2 separate regions of the Homo sapiens genome follow, and region 2 is linked to region 1. Evidence: fine-mapped expression QTL. A gene starts in region 1. The other region holds a variant in brackets. All regions are shown on one strand. Distances are between the middles of the regions. Region 1 holds the start of FAM110C (family with sequence similarity 110 member C). Region 2 has its middle 59 kb from the start of FAM110C.

Region 1 (2,908 bases):
ATTTCATTGGCTTTGATTTGCATCTCTCTAATGATCTATGATGTTGAGCTTTTTTCATATGTTTGTTGGCCACATAAATGTCTTCCTTTGAGAAGTGTCTGTTCATGTCCTTTGTCCGCTTTTTAATGGGATTGTCTTTTCTTGTAAATTTAAAACAGAAATTTTTACAGGTGACAAAACAACCTGGAACGTTTGTTACCTGTCCAAAGGTAAATTGTGGACCCAGGGTCAAATTCCAGAGGTCCTGTACTTTGCAGTTCTCTGTCTTAGAAGTGCTGCTGTTGCCCATGAAGTAGTGCAAATTAGGAAAAGAAGACACTTTGGGCTACACAATTAAAAAGGTTTTTTCCTCTGACTTAGGGAACAGGCTTGCCAAGCAGAGAGCAGGCTGGACTTTAGACCTCAAGGCCCCATCCTCCCGCATCCTGTAGGAAACCATCTGTGGCAACCCAGGAGCTCCCCCTTTCTCCATCTCTGTCCCTCTCTTTCACTCCCCACCCCCGCATCCTTCCTTCTCTTCTCCCACTCTCTACTTTATTGGCCTAGACTCCTTTTCCTATGAGTCTTACATGTTCCAACGAGGCTGTCTGGGCGGTCTGGCTTTCAGGAGGCGATTTATTGTTGTGCTACTATCCCTATGAAATTTTGCTTCGCTGGGGCTCAAGGAGATTAAAGACCCCCAAGGCCCACTCAGCACCACCCTGCTGCGGTCCTCTTCCTCGTTGGTGAGGTGTTCGTGCCCACTTTGGGGGCCCATCTGCACCTGTCGCCCTCCCTGCCTTCCGGGCTGCTGCTGCTCGGAGCGTTCAACCACAAGGCTGAAAGCACAGCCTGTTACGGAGTTGTCTTCACAACGCGATAACGTGAACATTTCACATGTCTGAGAGATAACTTTAGTATTTTGTCCAAATTTTTGAAATAATGGAGTTTGGGAAGTATTTTATCTTAGACTCTTAGCATTCCTAGGCTGATCCACTGCCTGGTGAACTCGTGGTTTCCCCGTTGCCTCGGTTACCGTAAAAATAGCAATGATTCTGGACACTTGGCTGGGCTTCTTCCAAATCCACTGAGCCGCGCCTGGGGCCCCAGCCTGCCCCACTGAGAGTCCTAGCTCGGTCCTCGGGCCCGGCCACGCCCGCTGCCGGCCAGCGACCGAGTCGGACCCAATCCGAGGCCCTGCGTTCTTGCCACCCAACACGTAGGCTGATCCTGGCGTGCGCTGCGTGTTCTTTCCTCTTATGTCCTATTCCTTTCTGTTAATAAGAATATGAGCTCAGGTAGACAAAATTAAACAGTCAAGTTTCCAAACACGATGAGGTCACTTTAAGAATTCAAAGGATGTGAGGCACCTGCCCGGGGGAGGTGGGGGGACGTCCCCTCTGCTCCCCCTCCCCGGAAATGCCTGCGTCCAGCAGTGACCTCGGGGATCTGGGGCTGAGCGAGTGGGGGTTCAGAGCCTGCTCGCCCCAGCGTCCTCCAGGCGGTTGGCAGCGCCGCCGGAAGGTGAGGGGGGGCGGGGACGGCACCGGGCAGGAGGTGAGGGCCGGGACCCCGGACGCGAGGTGAGGGCGGGCGCTGGCACCCGGAGAGCGGCCAGGGAGGCGGGCCCGGGCGGGAGTGAGGAGGCGGGGACGGGCGGGGACGAGCGGGGATGCGGGGACGCGGCCAGGGCCGGGGCACCGGGCGGGGGCGGGGGCGGTGCCAGTCGGTGTGGGCGATGAGGTCGGGAGGGGCGGGAACTGGGGAGTTTCGCCAATCGGTGCAGACTCCGGTTCTCCCCAACCCCGGGCCTGGGCAGCTGGGCACTGGGGCGCCGTTCCCCACCCGGCGCGGACTTCGGAACCGGCCCTGGGACTGACTGGCTCTACCACTCGAGCGCGTCTCCGCTGGACCCGGAACCCCGGTCGGTCCATTCCCCGCGAAGATGCGCGCCCTGGCGGCCCTGAGCGCGCCCCCGAACGAGCGGCTCCTTCCCCGGGACCCCGCGGCTACCCGGGACCCCGACGCCGCGCGGCCGGCGCGCAGGAGCGCAGTGGAGAGGCTGGCGGCGGATCGCGCCAAGTATGTGCGGGGTCGGCCGGGGACTGGCCGGGGCGTCGCTTCCGAGGGCAGCGGCCCGGGGGCGATCAAGTGCCCGGGGAACGACCCTGGGCCCCCGGCCCGCGCCCCGGCCCCGGTGGCGCGCAGGGCTATTGCGCGGAAGCCGTTGAGACCGGACTCGCTGATCATCTACCGGCAGAAATGCGAATTCGTGCGAGGATCGGGCGCCGACGGCCCCAGGGCAAGCCTGGTGAAGAAGCTCTTCCAGGGGCCGGGTAAGGACAAGGCGCCGGTGCCCCGGACGGGAGACGAGGGCAAGGCCGGGAACCCGGAGACGGTCCCGACCACTCCTGGCCCCGCGGCGGACCCCGCAATCCCCGAGACCCCAGCCCCAGCCGCGCGGTCCGCGGCGCCCTCCAGTGTCCCGGCCGCGCCCCCTGGGCCAGAGCCGCGGGTGGTGAGGCGTCGGGGGCTGCAGCGCTCACAGTCGGACCTCAGCTCCCGCTATTCCGCTGCCTTGGCCGAGTCTGACACCTTCTTCCAGTACTGCGGCCTGGACCCCGAGGTGGTGGAGGCCCTGGGGAGGGAGAACTTCACCGCGGGGTCGGACTGTGTGACCCTCAAGGTGCGCAGCGTGAGCGTCGCCACCTCCGGCAGCGGCTTCTCCCGGCACAGCGGCGGCGACGACGAGGGGCTGCAGGAGGAGGAGCTGATAGAGCAGGTGCCCAGCACCACTTCGGTCATCGAGAGGAACGCCCGCATCATCAAGTGGCTGTACACCTGTAAGAAGGCCAAGGAGACCCCCAGCCAGGAGCAGAGCCGGACCCGAGGTGTGTGCCCAGAAGGCTGGGGGCGGGGCTGGCCGTGT
Region 2 (2,908 bases), 58 kb before region 1:
CAATTTTGTGCTGCTTACAAGAAACTCACTTCATCAGTAAAGACACATAAAGACTGAAAATAAAGAGATGGAAAAAGATATTCCACACAAGTGGAAACCAAAAGCAAGTAGAAATAGCTAAGTTTACGAGGGCTTGCCTGTCGTGTACATGTCTCTGTGACTCCCAGGAGGGGAAGGGCTGCTCAGTTCAAGGTGTTCTGTTTGGTAGAGCATGTGTCCTCTGACAACCATGTCTCTGGACTTTTCAGACACTCTTGGGGATGGCACTCCACACACAATGAAGATGCAGGGGCCGGGGAACCCCAGCACTCGGTACCCTTTGTCCAAGATTAAAATCGGCCTGTGGGATGTAGTGAGAAGGCAGGTTGCATGGGTGTAACTGATGTATCTTTTCCTTAACGTTATTATAATAATGGGTAATTTCTCAATAAAGCATTCTTTTTGGAGAAAAAAAGAAATAGCTAAGTTTATATGAGATAAAACAGACTTTAAAGGTAGAACAGTTAAAAAAAAAGACAAAGAAGGTCATTATATAATGAAAAAGAGATTAATCCAGCAATAAGATATAACAATTCTAAATATATATGTTCTTAACACTGGAACACCCAAATTTGCAAAGCAAATATTACTAGATCTAAAGAGAGAGATAGAGTGAAATAAAATAATCATGGAAGACTTCAATATCCCATTCTCAACAATAGACAGAGTATGTAGAAAAAAAATCAACAAAGACACATTGGATTTAAACTGTACTTTAGACCAAATGAACCTAACAGACATTTACAGAACATTTTACCTAACAACTGCAGAATATACATTCTTTCCATCAGCACATGGAAACTTCTCCACAATAGACTATATTCTAGGCCACAAAACAAGTCTCAACAAATTTTTAAAACTCAAAATTAAATCAAGTGTTTTCTCAGACCACAAGAGACTAAAACTAGAAATAAATACCAAGAGGACCTTTGGAAACTATACAAATACATGGAAATTCAACAACATGTTCCTGAACGGCTATTGGGTCAGTGAAGAAATTCAGATGAAAATCAAACATGTTTTGAAACAAATGAAAGTGAAAATACAACATAGCAAACCTTGTTGGATAAAGGAAAAGTAATGTTAAAAGGGACATTTATATCAATAAATTCTTATATCAAAAAAGGAGAAATATTACAAATTAACAATCTAACAATTCACCTCAAGGAACTCAAAAAGCAAGAGCAAACCAAACCAAAAATTAGAAGAAGAGAAATAATAAAATTGAGCGGAATTAAATGAAATAGAGACTAAAGATACAAGGGATCAAAAGATGAAAAGTTGATTCTTCAAAAAAACAAACAGAATTAATAAACCTCCAGCTAGACTAACAAAGAAAAGAAGAGAGAAGACCCAAATAAACAAAGTCAGAAACGAAAAAGGAGACTTACAACAGATAACACAGAAATACAAAAAGATTGCTGGAGACTATTATGAACAACTATACGCCATCAAACTGGAAAACCCAGAGAAAACAGATAAATG[C/A]CTGGAAACATATAATATTGAATCAGAAAGAAACAGAAAACCCGAACAGATCAATTATAAGTAGTAATACTGAATCAGTAATAAAAGCATCATATCCAACAAAGAAAAGCCCAAGATTGAATGCCTTCACTGCCAAATTCTACCAAACTTACAGAGAAGAAATAATACTATCCTCCTGAAACTATTCCACAAAATGAAAGAGAAGGGAATTCTCCATAACTCATTCTATGAGGCCAGCATTACCCTGATATCAAAATCAGACAAAAACCCAACACAAAAGGAAAACTACAAGCCAATATTTCTGGTGAGTTTAGACACAAAAATTTTCAACAAAATAATAGCAGCTTGAATCCAACAGTACATCAAAAAGATAATACACCATGATCGAGTGGAATTTATCCCAGGGATGCAAGGATGTTTCAAAATATGCAAATTGGTAAACATGATACCTTACATCAACAGAATGAATGACCAAAACCATACGATCATCTCTAATAGATGCAGAAACAGCATTTGATAAAATGCAGTATCTCTTCATGAAAAATACTCTCGACAAACTAGTCATAGAAATAATATACCTCAAAATAATAAAGACCATTTATTACAAATCCATAGCTACTTCATACCGAATGGGGAAAAGTTGAAACCTTTTCTCTAAGAACTTGAACAAGACAAGGATGCCCCCTTTCACCACTCCTATTCAGCATAGTACTGAAGTACTAGCCAGAGCAATCAGACAAGAGAAAGAAATAAAAAGCATCTAAATTGAAAAGGAGGAAGTCAAGGTGTCCCTCTTTGCTGATAATATAATCTTATATCTAGAAAAACCTAGACTCCACCAAAAATGTCTTAGATTTGATAAATGAATTCAGTAAAGTTGGTTGATACAAAACCAATGTACAAAATTCAGTAGCATTTCTATACACCTATAGTGATCCAGGCAAGAAAGAGGTTAAGAAGGCAATCCCATTTACAATAACTACAAAAAAATACCTAGGAATAAATTTAACCACCAAAAAAAAAAAAAACTAGGCAACATGAATGAAATAAATTGAAGATGGGACAAACAAATGGAAAAACATCCCATGTTCAGGGATCAGGAGAATTAATATCATTAAGATGACAATGTTGACCAAAGCAATCCACAGATTCAAAGCAATCCCTATTAAAATATCAATGTCATTCTTCACAGAATTAGGAAAAACAATCCTAAAATTCACAAGGAGCCAACAAAAGAACCAGAATAACCAAAGCAATTCTAAAGGAAAAAACAAACAAAACACACCAAAGCTGGAGGCATCACATTACCTGACTTCAAAATGTATTACCAGCCTGTAGTAATCAAAACATCATGGTATTTGTATAAAAACAGACACATAGACTA

What was found. PIP is the estimated chance that this variant, and not a neighbour inherited with it, causes the effect.
Region 2: its variant is fine-mapped to the expression of FAM110C in whole blood (INTERVAL, PIP 0.98).

What each region holds. Positions count from the first base shown.
Region 1 is chr2:45,402-48,309 of GRCh38, reverse strand. FAM110C (family with sequence similarity 110 member C) reads left to right here and starts at 1,805. Exons shown (of 2, transcript NM_001077710.3): 1 at 1,805-2,870. The coding sequence starts at 1,925.
Region 2 is chr2:103,621-106,528 of GRCh38, reverse strand. No RefSeq gene overlaps it. Among named protein-coding and RNA genes, the nearest start is that of FAM110C, 59 kb to the right of the region's middle. The variant C/A (reference allele first, on the strand shown) is at 1,525.